Homo sapiens: one gene and its partners. The protein of the gene in region 2 interacts with the protein of the main gene of each other region in a pairwise test. Each region holds a gene or a part of one and is shown on either strand. Other genes may lie near its edges.

What was found.
Region 1: the proteins of UBTD1 (region 2) and TRIM50 interact in binary tests that used the Homo sapiens proteins (3 or more experiments, as listed by UniProt).
Region 3: the proteins of UBTD1 (region 2) and TRIM39 interact in binary tests that used the Homo sapiens proteins (3 or more experiments, as listed by UniProt).
Region 4: the proteins of UBTD1 (region 2) and MRFAP1L1 interact in binary tests that used the Homo sapiens proteins (3 or more experiments, as listed by UniProt).

Annotation. Positions count from the first base shown.
Region 1 is NC_000007.14:73,312,008-73,318,082, forward strand, and holds the end of TRIM50 (E3 ubiquitin-protein ligase TRIM50), read right to left. Parts: intron 4,683-6,075; coding exon 4,558-4,682; intron 1,663-4,557; coding exon of another isoform or gene 1,622-1,662; exon of another isoform or gene 1,504-1,621; coding exon 914-1,503; 3' UTR 529-913; downstream 1-528. UniProt on the Homo sapiens protein: E3 ubiquitin-protein ligase that ubiquitinates Beclin-1/BECN1 in a 'Lys-63'-dependent manner enhancing its binding to ULK1. In turn, promotes starvation-induced autophagy activation.
Region 2 is NC_000010.11:97,564,917-97,571,727, reverse strand, and holds the end of UBTD1 (ubiquitin domain-containing protein 1), read right to left. Parts: intron 3,815-6,811; coding exon 3,587-3,814; intron 1,591-3,586; coding exon 1,205-1,590; 3' UTR 522-1,204; downstream 1-521. UniProt on the Homo sapiens protein: May be involved in the regulation of cellular senescence through a positive feedback loop with TP53. Is a TP53 downstream target gene that increases the stability of TP53 protein by promoting the ubiquitination and degradation of MDM2.
Region 3 is NC_000006.12:30,336,907-30,343,934, reverse strand, and holds the end of TRIM39 (E3 ubiquitin-protein ligase TRIM39), read right to left. Parts: intron 4,028-7,028; coding exon 4,005-4,027; intron 3,664-4,004; coding exon of another isoform or gene 3,574-3,663; intron 3,431-3,573; coding exon 3,315-3,430; intron 2,224-3,314; coding exon 1,676-2,223; 3' UTR 206-1,675; downstream 1-205. Other genes in the region: TRIM39-RPP21 protein, read right to left, coding at 2,039-2,223, 3,315-3,430, 4,005-4,027.
Region 4 is NC_000004.12:6,707,173-6,714,511, reverse strand, and holds MRFAP1L1 (MORF4 family-associated protein 1-like 1), read left to right. Parts: upstream 1-4,646; 5' UTR 4,647-4,882; coding exon 4,883-5,266; 3' UTR 5,267-5,281; intron 5,282-5,868; 3' UTR 5,869-6,811; downstream 6,812-7,339.

The DNA of each region.
Region 1 (6,075 bases), on a different chromosome or scaffold from region 2:
TAAAAATTTAAATATTAGCTGGGTATGGTGGCAGACACTTGTTGTCTCAGCTACTCAGGAGGCTGAGGCAGGAGGATCACTTGAGCCTGAGAGGTCAAGGCTGCAGTAAGCTACAATTGTGCCACTGCTCTCCAGCCTGGGTGACAGAGCAAGATCCTGTCTCTGAAACTAGACTCGAGGCTGGGCACGGTGGCTCACGCCTGTAATCCCAGCACTTTGGGAGGCTGAGACAAGTAAATAATTTGAGGTCAGGAGTTCAAGACCAGCCTGGCCAACACAGCGAAACCCCATCTCTACTAAAAATACAAAAATTAGCTGGGTATGGGGCACATGCCTATAATCCCAGCTACTCGGGAGGCTGAGGCAGGAGAATCACTTGAATCCGGGAGGTGTAGGTTTCAGTGAGCCTACATCGTGCCACTGCACTCCAGCCTAGGTGACAGAGAGAGACTCCATCTCAGGAAAAAAAAAAAAAAAAAAAGACTCGAGCATAAAGCAGTATGTATAGCAACTAATATGTGCAAATCATTTAAAGAGAAAGAAATAATGTCAAATTTATTATCCTTGATAGTAGTTGAAAGTTCACAGTAATATGGAAAAGGTATACATGGGACTATTTCTGCCCTCGGAAGCGTCTGCGCAGATAGCATGGTTAGCAAGTGGCAGGAACCATGGGGATTTCAGTGTGTCCCTGGCTGCCAAGGCCTGGGGGCCGAAGTTTACAAATACACCCTTGGCTGAGGGGAAAGGGACTGGGGTCCTGTTCCCTATCATTACATGTTCCAGGGACACACAGGCCTGAAGACCTTCCTAAACAGTGACGATATCACCTCAGGCGGGACCCAGCAGAAGCCCGCGAGTCCCCGGTGCCCCGCCGGGATGGGCCTGTGGGCCGGCAGGACTCCGGGCGGCCCTACAGCTTGGTGGGCTGCTCGGGGCTGAGGGGGCCAGGCCCGCTGGGCGGGGGCAGCACCATGGGCAGCGAGTTGCTGCCCCTCTCGTGCCAGCAGGTGTCCAGGATGGGGTAGAGCTTGCCCTGGAAGTCGGCCTGGAAGGTGTAGAGCGGCCGCAGGTCATCGGGGCGGTCGGCATCGAAGAAGGTGAGTTCGCCCTGCTCATAGTGCAGGTAGAGCCCGATGCGGTGGGGGTGGCCGGCCACGGGCAGGGGTACCCGGGGGCAGGCAAAGGCTTCGTACACCCGGCCCTCCTTCAGGCCGATCAGCCACACGCCGTGCTCGGGGGACCTGTTCAGCTTGCCCTTACGGCTGGCTGTGCCCTTGATGACCCCCAGGCGCCAGTCGCTCTTGCTGCCCACCACCACCTCCCAGTAGTGGCGGCCGCAGGAGAAGCCGCGGCTGGCCAGGACGCAGGTGCTGTAGTCGAAGCGCTCAGGCTGGCTGGCTCGCCGCTGGGCCAGAAGCCCGCACTGCACCACCGTGTTGCCCTTGGAGAGCTCCAGGAGTGGGTGGGCAGTGGCAGGGTCCAACTTGAGAGGCTCCGGGGCTGGGAGGGAGATCACAGAGGGTCTGTGAGGCCACGTGGAGGGCAGCAGACCCGGCCCACAGAAGCTGATGGAGGCCCTGAACTCCCCAAGGAGAGGGGCTGTGTCTTCCTCATCTCTCTAGCCCCAGGGTCTAGAAGGGGCCAGTACAGGGCTGCTCCCTGAATGAATGAATGAATGAATGAATGAATGAATGAATGAAGTTTTACATAAGGAAGATCAATCACAGACTGATTGCATCCACCCAAGGCAAAAACAGTGTTTATATAAAAGGGAGCAGCTTGGTGGGCTGTGGGGGGCTGAGGTGGCTGGAGAAAGAAATGGACACTGGGCTCGGGGTTCTGGCCTGCCTGCCTGACACAGAGGTGTTGTGGGAAGGACCCGGAAGACACCTGTCCTGTGAGCCTATAGCTCAGCCCTCAGGGATTTCTGGAGAACCCATAACAACTGCAGCTGTTGGATTTGCTAGCCTAGTCAGCCTATTCAAGGACGAACTAGCCCACCTGAGCTTTTTGCTAGTTACCAGCTGATCCGTTTACCCCAGAAATGTGAGATGTGCTCCCCCCTGCCCGCCTCCCACCCCTTCCCGCCACCCAAGTTGCCGCAAGGAAAGAAGGCCAAGGGGAAGAAGGTGGCTCCGGCCCCTGCTGGCGTGAAGAAGCAGGAGGCCAAGAAAGTGGTTTATCCCGTTTGAGAAAAGGCCTAAGACTTTTGGCACTGGACAGGACTTCCAGGCCAAAACGGACCTCGCCCACTTTGTGCAATGGTCCTGCTCGGTCAGGGTGCAGTGGCGGACAGCCATCCTCTATAAGTAGCAGAAACTGTCTCCTGCTATTAACCAGTTCACCCAGGCCCTGGACCGCCAAACAGCTATTCAGCTGCTTAAGCTGGCCCAGAAGTACAGACCAGGGGCAAAGCAAGAGAAGAAGCAGAGACTGTTGGCCCTGACTGAGAAGAAAGCTGCCAGCAAAGGGGATGTCCCCACTAAGAGGCCACCTGTCCTTGGAGCAGGAATTAACACCGTCACCACCTTGATGGAGAACAAGAACGCTCAGCTGGGCCAGGCACAGTGGCTCATGCCTGTCATCTCAGCACTTTGGGAGGCTGAGACAGGCAGATCACTTGAGGCCAGGAGTTTGCAAGCAGCCTGGCCAACATAATGAAAAACCCCGTCTCTACTAAAATACAAAAATTAGCCGGGCGTGGTGGCACACGCCTATAGTCCCAACTACTCAGGAGGCTGAGGCAGAAGAATCACTTGTACCCAGGAGCCAGAGGTTGCAGTGAGCTGAGATCACACCACTGCACTCCAGCCTGGGTGACAGAGACTCTGTCTCAAAAAAAAAAAAAAAAAAAGGAAGGCTCAGCTGGTGGTGACTCCACGCAACATGGGTCCCATCAAGCTGGCTGTCTTCCTGCCTGTGCCTGTGTGTAAAGTGGGGTCCCTGACTGCATCATCAAGGGGAAGGCAAGACTGGGATGTCTAGTCCCCAGGAAGACCTGCACCACTGTCGCCTTCACACAGGTTAACTTGGAAGACAAAGGAGCTTGGGCTAAGCTGGTGGAAGCTACCAGGACCAATTACAACAACAAATGTGATGAGATCCGCCATCACTGGGGAGGCAGTGTCCTGGGTCCCAAGTCTGTGGCTCACATTGCCAAGCTCAAAAAGGCAAAGACTAAAGAAACTACCACTAAACTGGGTAAAACGTACACTGTTGAGTTTTCTGTACATGAAAATAATACAAATTTTCCTTCAAAAAAAAAAAAAGAAATGTGAGATGTACAAACAGGATTCACAGTTCACAAACTGCAATTTTTTTCCTTCTTATCTTTCCTTTTTTTTTTTTTTCATTCTTTTCTTTTTTACTGATGAGGTCTCCTCTGTCACCCAGGCTGGAGTGCAGTGGTGCAATCATAGCTCACTGCAGCCTCCCAACTCCTGGGCTCAAGCAATCCTCCTGCCTCAGCCTCCTCAGTAGCTGGGCCCACAGGCACATAACACCACACCCCACTAATTATTTTTTGTAGAGATGGCGTCTCACTATGTTACCCAGGCTGGTTTTGAACTCCTGGCCTCAAGCAGTCCTCCCACCTTGGCCTCCCAAGGTGCTGGGATTGCAGGCGTGAGCCGCCGTGCCCAGCCCCTTCTTTTATATAAACCCTATTTTTGCTTTTGGTGGATGAAATCGCTCTGTTAGCAGTCTCCCTTATGTACAAGACAGCATGCTAGTAATAAAGGAATGAAATGTGTTTGAGTTGTTTTTGACAGAGAACAAGAATAGGTTGGTTCAAAAGTAATTGCGGTTTTTGCCATTACTTTGAAGACCACTTGTCCTTTGAGTAGGAAGGACATTTTTAAAAGGATATTACTTTTTTTTTTTTTTTTGAGACGGAGTTTTGCTCTTGTTGCCCAGGCTGGAGTGCAATGGCACGATATCAACTCACTGCAACCTCCACCTCCCTGGTTCAAGTGATTCTCCTGCTTCAGGCTCCTGAGTAGCTGGGATTACAGGCGCACACTACCACGCCCAGCTAATTCTTGTATTATTAGTAGAGACGGGGTTTCACCATGTTGGCCAAGCTGGACTTGAACTCCTGACCTCAGAAGATCCGCCCTCCTCAGCCTCCCAAAATGCTGGGATTACAGGCATGAGCCACTGTGCCCAGACAAAAAGTACATTACTTTTAAAAGTAATGGCAAAAACTGCAATTACTTTTGCACCAACCTAATACCATTTATGAAGCACTAAGCTGCAACACACGTATGTCTATATACAAGCTCTGCAGCCTGGCCGGGTGGGTGCAAATAGCCCCACTTTACAGATGAGGAACCTGGGCTCAGAAATGACACAACTTGCCCAGCCAGCAGCTAGGAAAGGAAAGAGTAAGCAGGAACCCAAGCTGTTCGGAAACTCAGTCCCATGCTCTCACTAGGACCCTCCACAAACCTCCATCTGAGTTCTCTGTAGCTTATTATCTCTCTGATACAATCGATGAACTGCCACCTGCCCTGGGCGGCAGCCCTCAGGAAGGAGGACGGGTCAGGGCCTCACCTGGCAAAACTTTCCGGAAGAGCCTTTTCCACACGGTCAGCTTGATGTCAGCCTGGTGGAGGCCTGGCTTGAAGGAGATGGGGCTGAATGCGCCTTCTAAGGGCCGGGCCTGCGGCATCTCTGCTCTGCAGGTGACAGTTCACAGTACAAGAGAGTGAGGTATCACGTGGCCCACCCCACCCCTCCATCCTATCTATGTTTGCCCAGCCAGATCCACAGTGCAGGACTGCAGTCACAATGCCCATCAATGCCCATCATCCCCTCCCCTGCACAGCCCCTTCAGGGAGGACCCATCTCCTTCCTAGAAGGGGAAACGCTCTATAGTGGTGCTTCTAGAGTGCAGGTTTGGGGACCAGCAGTGTTGGTTGGAAAATGGTCCAACCCATTCCCAGTAGAAAGTCAATGGTCCACCTGGGAAATGGTCAGAAATGCAGGTTCTTAGACCCCACACCAGACCTGCCAATCAGAAACCAATTATGGGGGCCAAGTAATGTGTCTTTTTTTTTTGAGTCAGAGTTTCACTCTGTCACCCAGGCTGGAGTGCAGTGGCATGATTTCGACTCAGTGCAGCCTCAACCCCCTGGGCTCAAGTGATCCTCCCACCTCAGCCTACCTAGCAGCTGGGACTATAAGCATGTGCCACCATGCCCAGCTAATTTTTTTCTATTTTTGGTAGAGACAGTTTCACCATGTTGCCCAGGCTGGTCTTGAGCTCCTGAGCTCAAGCAATCCACCCACCTTGGCCTCCCAAAGTGCTGGGATTACAGCTATGAGCCACCATGCCAAGACTTTTTTTTTTTTTTTTTTTTTTGAGATGGAGTCTTGCTCTGTCGCCCAGGCTGGAGTGCAGTGGGGTGATCTTAGCTCGGTGAAACCTCTACCTCCCAGGTTCAAGTGATTCTCATGCCTCAGCCTCCCCAGCAGCTGTGATTACAGGTGCCTGCCACCACACCCAGCTAATTTTTGTATTTTTCATAGAGACGGGGTTTCACCATGTTGGCTGGGCTGGTCTCGAACTCCTGACCTGAAGGCATCCTTCTGCCTCAGCCTTCCAAAATGCTGGGATTACAGGTGTAAGCCGCCATGCCCAGCCTCTGTCCCTTCATTTAAACCCATGTCTTCTGACCAAATTGTCTCTAAGACTAAAAGAAATGTGAGAAACACGGAGTCTCCCATAAACAGGGAGTGAGGAAGGCTTGGGAACTGCACGTGTTCGTTTGTTGGGTCTAGAACATGGATCCACTCTCTTCCCACAATCTGCAGAGCAAGTTTCAGGCAGGGCTGATACTGCCTGCTGCGCAAGGGTGAGGAGGGTAAGCAAGGGATGCCCGGTGCTCCTGGATGTTGCTTCTGGCCATTTCCCACCTCTCCCAGCTCCGACTCCTGGTGATATCCTGCCTTACACCCAGCCACCCTGAACTCATAACCAGAGTCCACATGCCACTCCCCCTTTTACAGGACCGTTTCCTCGGCTTGCCTGGCAAACTCAGGTCCTGGGTCCTTCTCAGCCATCAGGCC
Region 2 (6,811 bases):
CCTTCTCTTCAGATATGCATGCATTCCCCTAGGAAGCATGAGGAACCGGTTCCTTTTCCTTTCTGGTTCCCTTGCTGGGAAGCTGACACAAACCTCTGACACACGATCTAAATCTGTCAGAGATTTTGCTTTAACATCACGATGGCTACAGCGTCTCCAGGGCCGGAAGTTAGCCCCTCTTGCTGCAGGAGCAGACCACCTTCCTGAGGTGCTGTCTTCGCCTTGCAAGCACTTTCACATCTGTCTTCCTGCTTAATCCTCCCAGCAACTGATGGAGGAGGCAGGGCAGGCAGCATGGCTCTGCTTTAAAGAAAAGCAAAGAGTGGCTTTTCCTGAGGACTCATGAGGACACCAGGGGAGCTGGGATCAGGGCCCAGAAGACTGGCAGTTCCAGGCTCACTCTGCTGGAGATTGCATGCCCAGAGCAGCTGGGGAGGCCAGGCATCCACCTGTTCCCATACCAGAACAGCTCCAGGGGCCCCACAGAGCTGCAGGAGAATTCAGTCAAATGCCAGGCAAGCGAGAAGGAGCAAAAGGCTTTATTGATAAATATGCAGATATGTCTGTCCACAGGGACCTGCTGTGGAGGCCATGACCAGGCTGCAGACCTCCCACTGCCTGGGTTACAGCCAGGACATGGCCCTGTGCAGACCCTGCCACGACAGCCCAGCTGTCCACCACCCGCCTCATCTCTGCCAATTGTGCTGGGGGCAGGGAGAGGCAGAGGCCCGCCTCAGGCTTCCCAAGCCCTGGGGCTCACGGGTGGTTCCCTCCCTTCCAAGGGAGTGGCACTGTGCCCAGGGGAGAGCCAGGGGATGGGGGCAGAGGAGGGAGACAGCAGCTGCTTCAGACCCTGAGCAGAAAACCAGAGTGAGCACAGCTGGCAGCACCAGATGACAGATCTGGGCTCCAGGGGCCTCCTGGTTGGCCCTTGTGGCTCGAACCTGCTTCGGGAGACAGGCAGGGTGAGGGCCCTGTTCGCCTTTTCTCTGACAAGGTTGCAAGGCCCGTGTGTGGCTGCCTGCTCCCTGGGTACCGGGAACTGGTGGCGCGTAGTGCCCTGAAAGGCAGGGTCCCTTCACGGCTCACCCACCAGCCACACCGAGGGGAGGGCCCCTGAAGAAAATGACAGCACTGGAAGGCAGCAGCAGGGTGGGGGCCTAGTGCTCCAGGCGGGGCCTCTTCCCAGGGGTCCGTGGGCCCATCAGTCCTGGGGTGGTGGGGGCTGGTTGATGATGACCTGGATGACAAAATCTTTCTGGATCTTGGTCTCCTGGAGCCGTGTGCGGTCTGTGAGCAGCTTCCCGGAGAAGAACCACCGCTGCCACGATGGCTCGATGCCCTCCTGGGCGTGCAGCTGCCTCTTGAGCTGCCCCACTGTGTCGGGCAGGCTGGCGCTGAGCCTCACGTCCTTGCCCGTGGACAGGCGCACCTTCAGCGGGAACTCACGGCGCACGCTGGGTGGAGGCTCGGGGGGCTCCAGGCTCTCCTCCTCCGTGTGCTCCAGCAGCAGGTTCACCGGCGGTGACAGGCAGTAGATGGGCAGCTGGTAGCGATTGCCCAGCTCATCGTAGCATTCACAGAGGGTGCCTGTAGGAGAGGCAGGGCTGTCAGAGTCAGCTTGGGGATCCACTATCATGGATTAAATGTTTGGGTCCCCCCAAATTCATATGGTGAAACTCTAACCCCCAATGTGACTGTATTTGGACATGGGGCCTATACAGAAATAAATAAAGTTAAATGAGGTCATAGCGTGGGGCCCTGACCTTCTGACCCCTTGATGGGAAAAATGGTCCTTTTTTTTTTTTTCTTTTGAGACAAGATCTCCCTATGTTGCCTAGGCTAGTCTCGAACTCCTGGGCTCATGCAATCCTCCCACCTCAGCCTCCCGAGCAGCTGAGACTACAGGTGTGCTCCACTGCCCTGGCTTACAGTTCTTGTAGAGACACTAGAGCACTATCTCACTCTCCACTCGCTCCCCATGTGAGGACACAGCAAGAAGACGGACACCTGCAAGCCAGCAACAGAGTCCTCACCAAAACCTGAACCAGCCAGCACCATGATGCCGGATTTCCCAGCCTCCAGAACTGTGGAAAATAAATGTCTCTTGATTAAGTCACCCAGCATGTGGTATTTTGTTACAGGAGCCTGAGCAGACTAATACACCTGCCATGGCCACCCCACAGTCAGATCTCCCTAGGACAGCCTGATGACCAGGTGTACAGGGCTGGAGTCAGGAAGACCTGAGCTGGCATCCCAGCTCCACCAGGTACTGGCTTGTTCATCCTGGCATATTATTTTTCACTTCTTCACATGTGCCAGGTGCTGGGGTTACAGGGATGAATGAAATAGCACAGCTCTGCTCTCCATGGGCCTTAGTGTCCTTACTGGCAAAACGTAATGCATGGAGAAATATGTTTATTGTCTCTTGAGCACCTACTAAGTGCTGGGACTGGACTAAATGATGTTATGTGTATCTTACTGAATCCTAATAATCATCTCCCCTTTACAGTCGTAAGGCAGTCAGGCTCTAAATTCGAGAAGCTCCTTGCTAAAGCCAAGACAGTTAGGAAAGGGAAACATTCAGACTGAAACCCAGGTCTGTGGCCAGGCGCAGTGGCTCACGCCTGTAATCCCAGCACTTCGGGAGGCCAAGGCGGGCGGATCACCTGCAGTTGGAAGTTTGAGACCAGCCTGACCAACATGGAGAAACCCTGTCTCTACTAAAAATACAAAATTAGCTGGGCGTGATGGCGCATGCCTGTAATCCCAGCTACTCAGGAGGCTGAGACAGGAGAATCACTTGAACCCAGGCGGCGCAGGTTGCGGTGAGCCGAGATCGCTCCACTGCATTCCAGCCTGGGCAACAAGAGGGAAACTCCGTCTCAAAAAAAAAGAAACTCAAGTCTGTGATTCTAGGGCTCCACTGTCACCCTCTGCTTTACATGGCCCCATAAGACTGCTATGAACTTACGTGAGCTAATGCAGTGGAAGTTTCTAGTTCGGTGTCCAGCACATAACAACCCAATAAAAGGTCAGTGCCTTTGGGAGGCTGAGGCCAGTGGATCACTGGAGCTTAGGAGTTTGAGACCAGCCTGGCCAACATGGTGAAACCCCGTCTCTACTAAAAATACGAAAATTAGCCAGGCATGGTGGCACATGCCTGTAATCCCAGCTACTCAGGAGGCTGAGGCAGGAGAATTGCTTGAACTCAGGAGGTGAAGGATGCAGTGAACCGAGATCCCACCACTGAGCCTCAGCCTAGCCAACAGAGCAAGTAAGACTCCATCTCAAAAAAAAAAATAAAATAAAAAGGTCAGTGCCTTGGATGTTCTGGGGTCCCAAAGTGCATTTGTGACACTGCTTTGCAGGTTTGTTGTCTTTCTGTCATGTCATTAGGCAAGCATAGACTGTGTCTCTTTTTCTTTGTGTACCCACTCCTGGTCCATGCTCAGTAAGGGGTGCTTGAATGAATGAATACGTGAGTAACCACCTGCCCCACCGCTCCACACTCCTCAACACCCTCAAACTGTGCTGGTGACCCCCTAGCTCCAGCGGGGATAAAGCCCTGGCCCTGCCCACTTACCATGAGGCAGGGTGATGCTGGCTCCATCCAGGATGGCCTGGGCCAGCTCGTGGTCGTTGGCTTCAGCAGCATAGGCGGCAGCCTTGAGGGCATCCCAGATCTCCTTGCGGCCCTCGAAGGCAGGCGCTGTGTCCCAGAACTCATCCCGTTTGCTCCGCAGCTGCCCGTCAGTCATGGGGTAGTCGCTCTTCCACTTAAGCCGCTCTTTCTTCAGGGGCTCATTGCGTCCTGGGCAGGACAGAAGGAGAGGCTCAGCATCTCTAAAGCCACTTGAGCTGCAACCTGCCCTCCCCCTCCCCTCCCCTCCCCAGGCCAGACCCTGAAACCCTGCTGCACTGGCTACTAAGTATTCAGGTCTTTGAAGCCCTTCCTAAATAGCAGGGAAGAGTCAGAAAACTTCACATAACCAACCTAGGGACATAAAATAATTGTGTCAGCAAAGCATACGCTACCATTGTTTTTGTTTTTTGTTTTTTGTTTTTGAGATGGAGTTTCACTCTTGTTGCCCAGGCTGGAGTGCAATGGCATGACCTCGGCTCACTGCAACCTCCGCCTCCCGGGTTCAAGCGACTCTCCTGCCTCAGCCTCCCGAGTAGCTGGGATTACAGGCGCCCACCACCACGCCTGATTAATTTTTGTATTTTTAGTAGAGATGGGGTTTCACCATGTTAGTCAGGCTGGTCTCAAACTCCTGACCTCGTGATCCACCCGCCTCAGCCTCCCGAAGTACTGGGATTACAGGCGTGAGCCACCGCACCCTTCCCACATGATGTGGGGCAGGGCGCGGTGGCTCACGCCTGTAATCCCAGCACTTTGGGAGGCAGTAGGATTGCTTGAGCCCGGCAGTTCTAGACCACCCAGGGCAACATGGTAAAACCCTGTTTCTACAAAAAAATTTTAAAAATTAGCCAGGCATGATGGCACGCTCCTCTAGTTCCAGCTACTTGGGAGGCTGAGATGGGAGAATCACTTGAGCCTGGGAGGTTGAGGCTGCAGTGAGCTGTGGTCATGCCACTGCACTCCATCCTGGGCAACACAGCGAAACCATGTCTCAAAAAAAAAATTATTAACAATTTTAACATCTTGTTACTAATGTCCCACTTAAAAAAAGGATTTTTTAAGCAATCATGACCAACAAACTCCCCCAAAAATTCCTGCAGCATCTGACAAAGAAAACAATTCTGTCAAATGTCATTTTTCTTGTTACCCAGCTCCAAGTGACCTCCAAGACAACTCCAAACCACAGCCAAGACTGAGGGCAGAGGTATCTCTCAAAGGCTTTTGGAGGCTCAGTCATCTCAAAACTAAAGGCAGAGTGAGCCACAGGAGTGAGATGTGAAGCACTCTGCTTCCACTATAACTCAGGTCCTACAGTGAGTGGAAGAACTGAGGCTGGGGGCCACCACCAGGCTGCTCCCACTGGCTGGGGCAAAAGGAAGCAAGGAAGAGAATTGCAGGCAGCGATCTCCGCTGAGAAAGAACCCCAGGCAAGCCTTTATTTATATACATGATCCCATTTCATTCTTGCAGTAGCCTTAGGCAGTAGGTATTATTATTGCTATTTCACAGGTGATATGACAGATTTAGAGAGATTAAATGACTTGCCCCAGGTCACATAGTAAGTGAGTGAGGGTTCCACCTCAGGTCTGACTAAATCCTGTAGTTCACCATCTGAATTCACAGTTACCTGTAGGGGCAGAAAACTCTAAAGCCAAATATTTAATTTAAAGTGTTCCTGGGGTGGTGAGGTGGCAGAAGGAAAGGCAAACCCTCTTTGGAGGAAAACAACTTCAAACCAGGCCTCAAAGAATTCCCAAGATAAAGTTCCAAGAAAAATAAATAAGGTAATAGTTTTAAAAAAAAAAAAAAAAATCTCAATATGCAAGGAAACAAGGCAGTACGAGCTTTACTGGCAAAAACAGCAGACAAAAGAATCAGATTTGCAAAGACTTTGGATAGATTATGAAATACTGAGTTAAGGGATGAGGGCCTTAAAAATATGAATAAGAGATTATAAAGAATGACCAAGGAGATTTTTTAAAAATGTTTAATTTTTGTGGGTACATAGTAGGTATAACCAAGAAGATCTTAAAAGAACCATATAGAACTTCTAAAAATTAAAAATACAGGCCAGGCCTAGTGGCTCACACCTGTAGTCCCAGCACTTTGGGAGGTCAAGGCAGATGGATCACTTGAGCCCAGGAATTCGAGATCAGCCTGGGCAATATGGCAAAAACCTGTCTCTACAAAAAATACAAAAAATTAGTCGGGCATGGTGGCATGCAGCTGTAGTCCCAGTTATTTAGGAGGCTGAGGTGGGAGGATCACCTGAGCCCAGAAAGGTTGAGGCTGCAGTGAGCCATGATCATGCCACTGCACTCCAAATCCAGCCTGGGTGACAAAGTGAGACCCTGTCTCAAAAAAATAAAAAGAAAATAAAAATAAAGAAAAATACAATATAATTGAGATTCGGATGTCTTTTTTCTGTTTGAGAGACAAGGTCACTCTGTCGCCCAGTCTGGAGTGCGGTGGTGTGATCATAGCTCACTGCAGCCTCAAACTCCTGGGCTCAAGGTATTCTCCCCCAGCAGCCTCCCAAGCAGCTGGGACTATATAGGTGACACTATGCCCTGCTAGGTCTAAAATTTTGAACTGAATTTCCAGAAGTATACAATAGGGAAAATGGGAAGGAAGCAACATTCAAAGAAATCATGGAGATGTCCACTCCCCCTAAACTGATCTATAAATGTAATACAATTCCAATATAATTCCTGTCAGTTTTTTCCCAAGGAACCTGGCAAACTGATTCTAAATTTTATATAGAAGAACAAAGATGTTCCTAGAAAAGAATCAGGTGGGAGAAGTTGTGCTGCCATGATCAGCATTAATTATAAAGCTACAGTTGGCACAGTACTGGAACAGGGACAGACTGTTGGACAAAAAAAGCCAAACCCCGTAAAATATTTGAAGAGATTTATTCTGAGCCAAATGTGAGGGCCATGACTTGTGATGCAGTCTCAAGAGGTTCTGAGAACATGTGCCCAAGGTAGTTGGATTACAGCTTGGTTTTATATGTTTTAGGGAGATTTAAGACATCAATCATTACATGTGAGATATACATTGGTTTGTGTGGAAAGGAGCGACAACTTGAAGGGGCGGGGACTTAAAGGTCATAGGTGGATTTAAAGATGTTCTGGTTGGCAATTGGTTGAAAGAGTTATTATC
Region 3 (7,028 bases), on a different chromosome or scaffold from region 2:
AGGTTGCAGTGAGCTGAGATCACCACTGTACTCCAGCCTGGGCGACAGAACGAGACTCTGTCTCATAAATAAAATGTAGATGTCCGGCCCACCCCAGACCTTGACTAACCACTAAGGGTGAGACCCAGGAACATGCATGTCTAACACCCAGTGATTCTTACACATCAGTACAAGGCTGTCACCAAATTACCACACAACACAGAGATCACTTCAGTGGATCCTTTGTTCCATATTATTTTAACCAACCAAAGTATCTTGCCACAAAGAACCACAGTCAAGGCACAAAGGTAAGAGGAGGAGAGTCTGGACAAAGTCCTGTTGAGGTGGTAGGAGGAACTGAAATGCCCTCAGTAAACTGCAGATTCTTCTCTCAGTCATTTCTGTGAAGATTACCCGAATAGCAGATAATCCAAATTGGTTTAGTTTGGTTTGGCATGCATCACTTTTACCTTTTATGACAACATATGTACCCTATAAGTTGTTTATTTTGGCCTAACATGAAAATCATTTACATTCTCTGAAAAGGGAAATGGCAAAGGGTGAGGGATGGCAACAAACAAGCAAAAGCCTGGCTTAACACCAGTTCCAGGCCAGATGCACACAAGCCAAATGAAGTTGCCTATCTGGCCCTTCCCTATATACCACCCTCTTCCACCCTGTCCTTAGGGTGAGAAAGACTCCATAACCTTTTTTCCTTTCTGGCTTGGACACCTTGGCCAGGTAAGAAGGCTGACAATTTGGGAGTAGCTACTAAGTAACATTCTTTAAGGCCAGGGCTTTGTATACAAATACCCTTCTCTTTCCTCTAATACCTGACTCTCCTTTCCAAGTTCCCTTGGGAACACTGTGAAAGGATAGATGTGTCTTGCAGGATCTCTTCCACTTTGCCTCTGGAGAGGAGCAAGGTGACTGACTTATTGGTATAGAGGCAGGCAATAAGCCAACTCTGCTGAAGGCTGAGGCAGGGACCTGGGTTCTCCTCTGCTTTCTTTTCAGCCTCTCCTTCTCCCCACATTCCTACCTCTGGCCAATCTTACCCATAATCGCAACCTTACCCTTGGAATAGAAGACCAAAGAAACCTCCCTCCTCTTCATTAATCTCTAGGAATCTGTTCCTTTAGCCCACTTCCCTGACCCTTCTAGCCTTGTTGATGTCCAATCTCTGCCCTCAGAAAAACTCCTCAATATCTAGACCCATGAGAGCATCTGTCATTCATCTCTCATGAATTCAGAGGTACACAGACCCCTGTGATCTACCTCAAGAAGCAAGACTATCCTGGGTCAAAGAACCCCCTAAAAAGATGTGCAGGGGTTTCTGTTTCCTCCTCTGGTTTGAGCAAGTCAGACCCTCACAGATTTTTTGTTTCTGGAAAAGCCTCTCCTTCCTTCCTGACCCGTCCTTGTGCAACAGAAAACCTGATGGACTTCAGGGTAGACAATCCTCTGGGAACCAGCTCCCCACCCTGACAGTTAGGAGGAAGTCACAGCTGTGCTCTCTCATCCAGCCCAGTCCTACCTCCCCCTCCACACAAAACCATCCTAGAAACCAAGGTGTTTCTCCAAGATGATTCAGGACTGGACCCAGGTGGACACGAAGACGTTCCAGCAGGACACGGGAAGGAGGCCCGTAGCACTTGACCCTGCCTCACCCCAGTCATTCCCACATCCCAACCTGTCACTCCCAATCTGTTGGGGGCCTGATGGTAAGTGGTGCAGCATTCTTCCGTCCAGCCCGGATGCCTGGGTAGAAGAGGGGCCAAAGTTTCTCAGTAAAAGTATCAGTGAAGGTGTAGATATGAGAGCGGTCTGTGACATTGTAGAAAGACAGTGTGCCGGCCTCATAGTCTAGGAATATGCCTACCCGCTTGGGTTTCACCTTGATGTGCAAAGGGGTAAAAGGTGTGGTGGTGGCTGCATATTTGTCCCCATTCCATAGCCGCACCCGCCAGTAGCCAGTCTCAGGGAGTGGAGTCAACTCGCCCTTTCGGCTCACGGAGTCCCGGCATACACCCACTGCCCAGTGGGTCTTGTCGCCCACCTCCACCTCCCAGTAGTGTCGACCTGAGGTGAAACCCTCAGTAGCCAGGACGCAAGGGTAGAAGGTGAAACGCCTTGGTGTGTCAGGGAGATCCCGGAGTCTTGTCTCCACGAACTTGACGCTCTTACGATCCTCTGACAGGACTAGGTTAGGATGAGCTGTCTCAGGGTCCAGGGTCACATCCGCTGGCGGGAGAAGCCAGAGTGGGGAGCTAGATGAGGATGGGAATAGCTAAATGCCCCTGCCTCACTCTTCCAGCCTGCCTTTACAGAGCCTGGTCCCTTAAAGGTCCCCAGAACAACCTGGTTTGGTTAACTTTCTCAATCCATGGTGTCACCTAAGGAAGGGGAGAAAGCAATGGCTCACTTCTCACCCTGACCCTAAAGTAAACAGATAATAATCTCTTGAGTCTGCAGTGGCTGGTAATCTAGGTTCCCGCCTGGTCCTCTCTTCATCTCCCTCTGACATTATCATTTATCTCACTATGTAGAGAAGTACAAGGTGTAGTCTGAGGGGCAGAAAAAAACGGAAAGTGTTAAGAAGGATGCCGAGCAAGACAGCATATGGTCTAGGGATAGGGTGACCATGTGTGTTTTCCAGGAACTGGCCTGGTTTATGACTATTTTCCCTGCATATTCACATTAATATAATGACACTCCCTTTCAGTTTCTTTCTTTTTTTTTTTTTTTGAGATGGAATCTCACTCTGTCCCTCAGGCTGGAGTGCAGTGGTGTGATCTCAGCTCACTGCAACCTCCGCTTCCCAGGTTCAAGCAGTTCTCCTGCCTCAGCCTCCAGAGGAGCTGGGATTACAGGCGCCCAACACCACATCTGGCTAATTTTTATATTTTTAGTAGAGATGGGGTTTCACCGTGTTGGCCAGGCTGATGTCGAACTCCTGACCTCAAGTGATCCACCAGCCTTGGCCTCCCAAAGTGCTAGGATTACAGATGTGAGCCACCGCACCCGGCCTTTGAAGGTTATGCAAGTTTACATGGTAAATTATATAACCACTCTACCCGATGACTTTGGCAAATTATTTAACCTTTCTGGGTCTCTATTTAGAAAAGAATGGACCTAAGAGTAGATAACGCTTAAGGCTTCCTCTCACTCCAAGTTCTGTGACTCAGGGTGAGACTAAAAGCCAGATAAAGGGGTAGGTGTGTGTGGGAGTAAGAAAAGTGAGACATAGGATAACTGAAACCCATATAAGGTAGGACCTAAAAACTTTCTTCTCTCTAGTGGTTTCTTCTAGTTTCCTTTTGGGAACAACTCACCAATTAGCTGTTTAAGGATTTTCCTTAGGGCAAAGTACTGTCGGGGAAAATTGCTGAAGTTCTTTTCCAGCTCTATGGATACTGAAGTCACCTCCATGGTCTTCACCTTTTCACATCTAGGAGGGATAGGGAGATAGGGGAAGAAAGGGCAGGGTTAGGGAGAAGCTCCAGCCAAGTGACTATTCAGATGTTAACATTTTTAGGGAGAAATTAAAATTCTCCATCTTCCCACTTTCTTCCTCCTCCCTGAAAAGCTCACCTGTTGATTTCTTTTACTAATCCAAGGAGAGCCTTATGATCCCGTGGACAGATCGTTGAGAGTGAGCCTCCGAACTTTCTAGGAATATTCCTGTATTTCATGCAAATGGATGATTGCCCTCCCTGCTCTCCCAACCCCTTCCTCCTGCCATCTTGTTTGGACACAATTCCACCCACTGGCACAAGTAGAATCTGATTCTACCTTATCATTCTCCTTCTCAAGAAGTCCTGATGTTCAAAGGGGAAAAGGGATTATTATTCCCAATAATTTGTTCTCTAACTGGCTTCATGGGCACAATGAACATTCTCCCATACCCTGCCCAGACACACTACATGACTTTCCCAACCTCACCCCCAACCCAAACTCCTGACTGTACCCCTCCTCTCTAAGCCAAGACCTAACTCACTCAGAGAGATACAACAATCACTTACTTTTCCAGGGTACTTTTGACATCCTAGAAGGAAGGAGAAAAGAAAGCAATATTGGTCCTGGTATTCAGTGGTCCTGAAGGCAAAAGGTTCCCCCTCCTCCCCAAAGTTCCACAGCTATAAAATAGGGATAGGATAAACTGAGGGTCACACAGTGCAAGAAGAGCTCCAGCGGGACCTGAATGCACTTCTCCCAACCTAATCCCTACTTTCAACTTCTGGTCATCATGAAGCTTGGTCATTTATATCACTTCCCAATGATTTCTTTTATGCTTGTCTTTGCTCCTCAAGGATGCTGGGAGCTCCCTATAAGGGACAGGGATTGTATCAATTCTTTACTCTGTCCCCCAAGTACCAACCACATATCTCACTCTCCTTGAGGATAAGTACAGAGAGTTCCAGACTGGTGGCATAGGAACAAATCACACATTCCTGTTACGGTTTGGTATCCCCTGTCTTGCATTAGTTAATAAACATCAATAACTGGCTGGGCACAGTAGCTCACGCCTGTAATCTGAGCGCTTTGGGAGGCCAAGACGGGTGGATCACTTGAGGTCAGGAGTTCAAGACCAGCCTAGCCAACATGGTGAAACCCTGTCTTTACTAAAAATACAAAAATTAGCCAGGTGTGGTGGTGTGCGCCTGTAACCCCAGCTACTCAGGAGGCTGAGGCAGGAGAATCGCTTGAACACAGGAGGCAAAGGTTGCAGTGAGCCGAGATCATGCACTGCACTCCAGCCTGGGCGACAGAGCAAGACTCTCTCAGAAAAAAAAAAAAGGAAGAATAAACACATTAATAACTGTGTGCTAATACTGATTTGTGAATACTTGGGGTCCAGAAGACAAAGAAGACAAATCTCTGTCCCACAAGGATTTCCCAGTTTAATATGGAAGGCAGAACACACATACATGAAAGGCCATAGGAACAAATACCAAGCAATACGTAACATAAAAATAAATGTACAATGAAGCCTCACTGCTTCAAATGCTGGTAATCTAATCTCTAAGATAAAAAATATGTTCCCTAGTTTTGCTAACACCATTCATTTACGTAAGAGAACAAAATATTTCAAACACTTTAGAGGTATTATTAATATATACATATCAAAAGCAATATATTATTTAAACAATTTCAGGCATACCTCATTTTATTGCACCTCGCTTTATTGTGTTTTGTTGACATTGTATGTTTTTCAGATAGATGGTTTGTGGCAACCTGTGTTGAGCAAGTCTACTGGCACCATGTTTTCCAACAGCATGTGTTCACTTCATGTCTCTGTGTCACATTTTGGTAATTCTCACAATATTTCACACTTTTTCATTATTATATCTAGTATGATCTGTGATCAGTGATCTTTGATGTTACTATTGTAATCGTTATGGGGGCACTGTGAACTGCATCCATATAAGACGAACAACTTAATCGATAAATATATTTTATGTGTTCTAACTGATCCACTACCAGCTATTCCCTCATCTTTCTCCATCTCCTCTGGCCTCCCTATTCCGAGACACAACGATATTAAAATTATATCAATTAATAATCCTGCAATGGCCTCTAAGTGTTCATGTGAAAGAAGAATCACATGTCTCTCACTTTAAATCAAAACCTAAAAATGTTTAAGCTTAGTGAGAAAGGCACATTGAAAGCCAAGATGGGCTGAAAGCTAGGCCTCTTGTGCCAAACACCAAGCCAGGCTGTGAATGCTAAGGAAAAGTTATTGAAGAAAATTAAAAGTGCTACTCCAGTGAACACATGAATGATAAGAAAGTGAAACAGCTTTATTGCTGAGATGGAGAAAATTTTAGTGATCTGGATATAAGATCACATGATTCCCTTAAGCCAAAGCCCAATCCAGAGCAAGGCTGTTAACTCCTTCAGTTCTATGAAAGCTGAGAGAGGTAAGGAAGCTGCAGAAGAAAAGTTTAAAGTTAGGTAGGTTGTTTTAAGAAAAGAAGCCATCTCTGTAACAAAAATGTGCAAGGAGAAGCAGCAAGTGCTGATGCAGAAGTTGCAGCAAGTTATCCAGAAGATCTTGCCAAGATTACTGATGAAGGTGGCTACACTAAACAACACATTTTCAATGTCAACAAACAGCCTTCTATTGAAGAAGGTGCTATCCAGGGCTTTCACAGTTCGAGAGAAGTCAATGCCTGGCTTTAAAGCTTCAAAGGACAGGATGACTTTCTTATTAGAAGCAAGGGCAGCTGGTGACTTTAAGTTGAAACCAGTGCTCACTTACCATTTCAAAAATCCTAGGGCTCTTAAGAATTATGCTAAATCTACTTTCCTTGTGCTCTAGAAATGGAATAACAAAGCCTACATGACAGTACACCTGTATACAGCATGGTATACTGAATGTTTTTAATTAAAAAAAATTACCTTTTGTAGAGATGGGGTCCTGCTATATTGCCCAGACTGGTCTTGAATTCCTGGCCTTAAGCAGTCCTCCTGGCTTGATCTCTCAGAGTGCTGGGATTACAGATGTGAGCCAACGTGCCTAGCCTTTACTGAAGTTTTTTTTGGGGGGATGGAGTTTCACTCTTGTCACCCAGGCAGGAGTGCAACTGCATGATCTTGGCTCACTGCAACCTCTGCCTCTCGGGTTCAAGCGATTCTCCTCCCTCAGCCTCCCGAGTAGCTGGGATTACAGGCGCCCACCACCATGCCCAGCTAATTTTTTTGTATTTTTAGTAGAGATTGGGCTTCACCATGTTGGCCAGGCTGGTCTCAAACTCCTGACCTCAGGTGATCCACCTGCCTTGGCCTCCCAAAGTGATAGGATTACAGGTGTAAGCCACCGTGCCCAACCCTTTACTGAAAATTTTAAGTTGAGACCTACTGCTCAGAAAAAAAGATTCCTTTCAAAATATTACTGCTCACTGACAATGCACTTGATCACCCAAAAGTTCTGATAGAGATGTAAAATGAGATTCATGTTGTTTTCACGTCCGCTAACACAACATCCAATCGGCAGCCCATGGATCAAGAAGTAATTTGGACTTTCAAGTCTTAATAAATGTATT
Region 4 (7,339 bases), on a different chromosome or scaffold from region 2:
TTCATGAAAGGTAGTGTGGCATCTCTTTCCTTCCAACCTGCGAAAGGAAGATAAATCTTGGGGTCCTACAATTACTAAGCTAAAAGAAAAGTCAAGTTGGAAACTGCTTAGGGCAAACCTGCCTCACATTCTATTCACAGTCACTTCTCCGCTCACTGAGATAAATGCGTATCTGATTGCCACCTTTGGAGAGGCTAATCAGAGACTCAAAATGTCTGGGCGCGGTGGCTTACGCCTGTAATCCCAGCACTTTGGGAGGCTGAGGTGGGTGGATCATTTGAGATCACGAGTACAAGACCAGCCTGGCCAACATGGTGAAACCCTCTTTTAAAAATACAAAAATTAGCCGGTTGTGGTCGTACACACCTGTAATCCCAGCTACTTGGGAGACTGAGGCAGAAGAATTGCTTGGACCTGGGAGGCGCAGGTTGCAGTGAGCCGAGATCACGCCACTGCTCTCCAGCCTGGGCGACAGGGTGAGACTCCATCTCAAAATAAATAAATAAATAAATAAATAAAATTTTAAAAGAAAGAAAGAAAAAAAGAAACTCAATAGAATGCAACCATTTTTCTCTCATCTACCCAAGACCTGGAAGCCCCCTCCCCGCTTCAAGTTGTCCTGCCTTTGCTTTGAGTTGTCTCACCTTTCCGGACCAATCCATCGTTCATCTTAGATATGTTGATCGATGTCTCATGTCTCCCTAAAATGTATAAAACCAAGCTGTGCTCTGACCACCTTGGACACATGTCATCAGGACCTCCTGAGGCTGTGTCACGGGCACACATCCTCAACCTCGGCAAAATAAACTTTCTAAATGAACTGAGACCTGTCTCAGATATTGGGGGTTCACAAACCACTTGCTCTGGGGAAACCAGCTGCCTTGTTGTGAGCAGCTCCATGGAGAAGCCCATATAGCAAAGAACTGAGACCAACAGCTAGGGAAAAACAGCCTCTTTCCAACAACTACATGAGTAAGTCATCCTGGAAGGGGATGCTCCATCCTCATTCAAACTCAGAAATGACTGCAGCCCCAGCTGATAGGTTGACTGCAACCTCATGTAAGATACTAAACTGAAATGACATAAGATAATGCTATGGTCTGAATATTTGTGTCCTCACATCCAAATTCATATATTTAAATTCTACCCCAGAAGGTGATTGATAGGGTTTGGATGTCCTGCCCAAATCTCATGTTGAAATGTAATCTCCAGTGTTGGAGCTGGAGCCTGGTGGGAGGTGACTGGGTCATGGGGACAGATTTCTCATGAATGGTTTAGCGCCATCCCGTTTGTGCTGTTCCTGTGATGAGTGAGTTCTCGTGAGATCTAGTCATTTAAAGTGTGTGGCACCTCCTGTCACCTCTTGCTCCTGCTTTGGTCATGTGACATGCCTGCTCTCCTTTTGCTTTCCGCCATGATTGTAAGTTTCCTGAGGCCTCCCCACAAACCAAGCAGATGCCAGCACCCTGCTTCCTGTAGAGCCTGCAGAACCCTTAGCCAATTAAGCCTTTTTTCTTCACAAATTACCCGGTCTCAGATATTCCTTTATAGCAATGTGAGAACAGCCTAACACAGTGATGATATCAGGAGATGGGGCCTTTGGGAAGTGATCTGGTCATGGGGTCAGAGCCCTCATGAATGTGACTAGTACCCTTATAAAGGATATAAGGCCAGCTGCAGTGGCTCATGCCTGTAATCCCAACACTTTGGGAGGAAGAGGCAGGAGAATTGTTTGAGGCTAAGAGTTTGAGACCAGCCTGGGCAACATAGCAAGACCCCCGTCTCTAAAAAAAATTTTTTTTAAAGCTGGGTGTGGTGCCATGTGCCTGTAGCCCCAGCTACTCAGGAGGTGGAGGCTGGAGGATCACTTGAGCTCAGGAGTTTGAAACAGTGAGCTATGCTCATTCCACTGCACTTTAGCCTGTGCAAAAGAGCAAGACTTTGTCTACAAGTAAATACACAAAAGATGTATAAGAGGGCCGGGCACGGTGGCTCATGCCTGTAATCCCAGCACTTTGGGAGGCTGTGGCGGGTAGATCACCTGAGGTCAGGAGTTCAAGACCAGCTTGGCCAACATAGTGAAACCCCATCTCTACTAATAATACAAAAATTAGCCAGGCGTGATGACAGGCACCTGTAATCCCAGCTACTCAGGAGGCTGAGGCAGGAGAATCGCTTGAACCCGGGAGGCAGAGGTTTCAGTGAGCAGAGATTGTGTCACTGCACTCCAGCCTGGGCGACAAGAGTGAAACTCAATCTCCAAAAGAAAAAAAAAAAAGGATGCATAAGAGAGACCCCTTGCTCCTTCCATCCTGTGAGGACACAGCAAGAAGGAACGGTTTATGAACCAAAATACTAGCCCTCACCAGACAGAATCTACTAGCACTTTGATCTTGGACTTCCCATCCCCCAGAACTGTGAGAAATAAATTTCTTTTGTAAGCTGCCCACCTTATGGCATTTTGTTAGAGCAGCCTAAATGCACTATGACAGATAATAAATGTTTTAAAGCTGCCAAATTTTGGGTTAACTGGTTATGCAATAATAAACCACTGAAGGAATATGCTACTATTTATTCATTTTATTTATTTATTCTCCTGCTGATGAACATTTGGGTTAACTTTGGGGCTATTATAATAAAGTTGCTGTGAATATTCTCGTATATGTATTTTTATAAACAATTGCACTCAAACTCTCTTGAGTGTATAACAAGGTGTCAGTTTGCTAGAACATAGGATTGGTATATGTTTAATCTTGGTTGATACTGCCAAATAGTTTTCCAAAATTATTGTAACAACTTACATTCCCATTATTATGTGCTGAATATATGTGTCCCCCAATATTTTTTTATGTTGAAGCCCTAACCCCCAGTGTGGCTGTACTTGGAGTAAAGCAGTAAGTAAGGTTAAATAAGGTCATAAAAGTGGGGGCATGATCCTATAGCTTCATGTTCTTATAAGAAGAGACACAAGAGAGCACTCTTTCCTGTACCCCCCAACACTGCATGCACAAAGAAGAGATCATGTGAGGACTGCAGCAGGAAGGTGGTCATCTGCAATTGAGGAAGAGAGCCCTCACCTCCAGAAACCAAATTTGCTGACACCTTAATCGTGGACTTCTGGCCTCCAGAACTGTGAGAAGATAAATGTCTGTTTTTAAGCCAACCAGTCTATAGTATTTTGTTATGGTGTCCAGAGTAGACTAAGACATCCATCAAGAATGTATAAGAGTTCCAGTTGTTCCACATCTTCCCCAACACTTGGTATTGTATTTGAAATTTTAGTCATTCTAGTGGATGTACAGTGCTTCCTCATTGTGGTTTTCATCTGCATTTCCCTGTTGAATCATGACGTTGAACACCTTTTCATATACTTATTAGCCATTTGAATATTCTCTTTTGTTAAGTACCAGCCTACGTCTTTTGCCCATTTAAAAATTTTGTCTTTTCCTTCTTGATCTGTAGGAGTTCTCAATATATTCTGCATATGAGTCCTTTGTCAGTATAACTATTGAAAATATCTTTTTTCACGGTGTCTTGCTCTTTCCCTCTTCATGTTTTTTTGATGAACATCTGCTAGAATGTTGGTGTTTGCAAAACTGTTTCACGCATGTCATCTTACAAATCCCTCTTCCCACTGACAGATATTCAGGCTGGGGCCATTGGTCTTTATCAGACTGGAAAACTGAAGCTCTGATCTGTGGCACTTGTGTTAAGAAGGATGCCCCCTCTACACACACTCATATTACTACTAGTGTGGCACTGGGTGGCTAAGCCTAGCAACAGACTTCCTCCATTCCACAATGGCATTAGGTTAGTGATCAAAATGTACTGACCATCAAAGCCACATTTACTAGGTCCCTGCTGATTTTCAGGTCCTGTGTGTGGAGGGACATAAAGGTGATCAAGACCAGAACCTGTCCCCAAACAGCCTCCAGTCTGGTAGAAGCACTTATGTACTAGAGAAGAATTCCTCTCTCTAAAGCATCCCCTAAGACCCTGCTTGACGCCAGGCTGACAGGAGGGGCGGAGGACAGAACTGAAACAGAAGTAGCCCTTTACCTTGAGGACCTTACAGACTGGCGAAGAGAGACCAAAAACCACCGGCCAGAATCACCCAAGGCAGCGAGAGAATTTCCCCCCAGGACAAAAGTATGAGCCAGGGGTGGGGAGGACAGAAGGACGTGTTCCATTCTAAAACAGTGAGCAGGGACTGTGGACCCACATTGCTCTGGGCTCAAATCACGACTTTTAGCACGGTTTTTACCTCTAGGTTCGTTGTGAGGGCTAAATGAATTCATATAAGTTAATTCAAGCTTGTGCATGCTTAGATAGTAAGCGCTGTGAACGCCAGCCAGTCTTATTCAAATATAGGGAAGGGAGGGTCACTTTTACTTTTAAAAAATAATAAAAGTAAAAGCCCGCTGAAGGGAAGCTTTAGATGAAGACGCGAACAAACCTGCCGCCACCGATCTAAATTAGAGGGCGAGGAGGGGCGCCGGGAAGCAGCTGGTGATGGACGTGCGCGCGCCCGAGGCCCCTTTACGTGCACGCGCCCGCTACCTGGTCTTGCCGAAGGCGTGACCGTAAAGGGGCCCGGCTCTGTCGTGAAAGGGCCGCAAAAAGGCCGAGGGCGAGTTGACGGCTGCGACTCCATTTTGTAGGCCGCTTATTTGTGTGCATCCACGGCGATTCTTCCCGCAGAGTTGTGAAGCGAAAGGCTTACAATTAAAAGGAAGAAAAAAAAATAAAGATAATTCGGGAGTACAATTGACAAAGCGTGTGGGTCGCTCAGCCTCCAGCAGTAACTGCTGATCTCCAGTTCTTGGAGGGTTCCGGTGAGAAGAACGCCCCTACTGCGGTACTGAGGAAGCGGCAGGAGGAGATGCGGCCCCTGGACATAGACGAGGTGGAAGCGCCTGAGGAAGTGGAGGTGCTGGAGCCCGAGGAGGATTTCGAGCAGTTCCTGCTCCCGGTCATCAACGAGATGCGCGAGGACATCGCGTCTCTTATACGCGAGCACGGGCGGGCGTACCTGCGGACCAGGAGCAAGCTGTGGGAGATGGACAATATGCTTATCCAGATCAAAACGCAGGTGGAGGCCTCGGAGGAGAGCGCCCTCAATCACGTGCAGCACCCGAGTGGCGAAGCCGACGAGAGAGTGTCGGAGTTGTGCGAGAAGGCTGAGGAGAAAGCCAAGGAGATTGCGAAGATGGCAGAGATGCTGGTCGAGCTCGTCTGGCGAATAGAGAGAAGCGAGTCTTCTTGAAGGAGGAGATCGGTGGTAAGGTCGGAAACTAGCTGGAGCTTGGATGAAACTCAGTAGTCGCCCTAAGCATGGTTAAACCGCGCCCTGTAAAAAGTTATGTTCTAGGCCTGCATCCCCCATTTTATTGCATCAAAAATTGAGCATTGGGAACAAAGTTGGGGTCAAGAGGAAAGAATGCGTGCTGGTTTTGTTAGGCGTTAGTATACCGTTTTTTTGTGGCCTCTCCCTCCCACGCTGTTAATTAGAGAAAGATAACAGTAACTTCGGTTTTGTTTTTGTGAAACATAAAAGTCAATTCTAATAGGGCAGTCGCCAGAAGTAGACCTGTCTAGGCACTAAGGGAGTTTGGGGAAAGCCAAAGAAGACCTAGGCCATAGAGCACAGTGGAACGCAGGCTGAGAACGCAGGGAAGGAGAAATAAAGAGTAAAGCCAGAGGCCATTACCTGAAATTTCCAGATTGTTCTATGAGACAGGTATGTCAGAGGACCGTGTCTCAAAGAAGTGGCATTCTTCTGGGTGGTTCACATTTATTTTTAACATCAGGATATGGAACTTTGAGAGTCAATGTCTTCATGGTAAATTTCTCCCAATTGTGCTTTAGGTTCACAGCTGAGGACTGTAGTCAACTGGTAAGGATGAACTGACACCTTGAGGAAACTGAAACAGCTTGTCATTTTCTCTGTTTTGTTTTTGTATGTTTTTTACCCCGATGTAACAGTCTCCCTTATGGTCAGTGATTGATGACCTCGATATGGATTTAGATTATCAAATGTGTTTGGTTTTGGAAATATAACTTTTGTCAAAGAAATACTCTCAGAAGAGAAATGGGGCTTAATTAAGTTGTTTTTGTGGTCACGTTTATTCTTGTTACTTCGCTGTGTTTTTGAAATGTTGGGCATGGCCTCGTATTTTGCTGTTACCTTTGTGACCTGATTGTTTTTTGGAACACGTCAAGACGTGGGATCAGAATCTTCCAACTTTAGAGGTGCAATGGAAGACACTACGCTACTTGGTTGAGCCTGGTGAAGAATGTATTAATGAGACTGCTTTGCATAAAACTGGGAAGAAAGAGAAGACAGTTGGAGATGGAAGATGGTTTTGTATATATTTTGGAACTTTAGTTCCTCTGTGAGACGAAAGAGGAGAGCTATGTTTTGTGGCACATTGTCTGATATATATTGTGTAACCTGTCAGGTGAGTTGATTTAGACAACATAGCTGACCTTTTATGACAAGGCAGTTTGAATAGGGACTATTGTAATACCCTCACACATTATAGGGGCATCAGAGAATGGCATGGAAGAGACAGTCTACAGAGAGCTTTAAGAGGCCGGAGAAAGGAAAAGACATTATCAGGGCCTGGAAAGTCTCTTCCAGTTCATCAGGGTAGTAGACCTGTCAGATTGGAGGTCAAAGTCAAAAGTATAATAAGTGTTAATTTGCCTTGAAAAACAAAGACCTAAAAAGCCTTTTTTAAGAAATAAATTTTTTGTTCACATGACCAAAGCCCCTCCTGTGTGTGTTAATAAAAGAATCATAAACAAATTTTTTTGGAATGGATGTTCTTCATTGAGTGTCATCAAATGGGGTTGAACTGCTTGTAGTTAAAGGCTCTTGGTAAGCCTTTAACTGAGGGAGAATTATTTCTGGAAGGTGCTATGGAGATGAGCTGACAGAACACTCAGTTCTGAAGAGAAAAACTTTCGGCCATCCTCTGGGCCAAGCCCCTGCTTTTCAGCAGCGGAAGTGTGTTTAGTTAACCAGTGGGAATGTAACTTGCTTCATATCCTATCCAAGGCACTAGGAACGTAAAGGTGAAGACATGGATGGGGCGAATATGTGGGACAGAAATGGAAACAAGGAATTGTGACATAGAGTGCGTGGATATCTTGTGGGATCCCTGAGGAGGGAGTCAACTCTTCGTAGGGAAGTGTGAATTCAGAGCAGGTGACTTACCTGGACCTGAAAAGTAGAAATGAATGAAGGCATATAAGGGACAGGGATCAAAGTGAGCAAAAGCCTTTCCAGTTCCAGCACTGGGGAGATGGCCATTGAGCTGGATGTTAAGGAGTG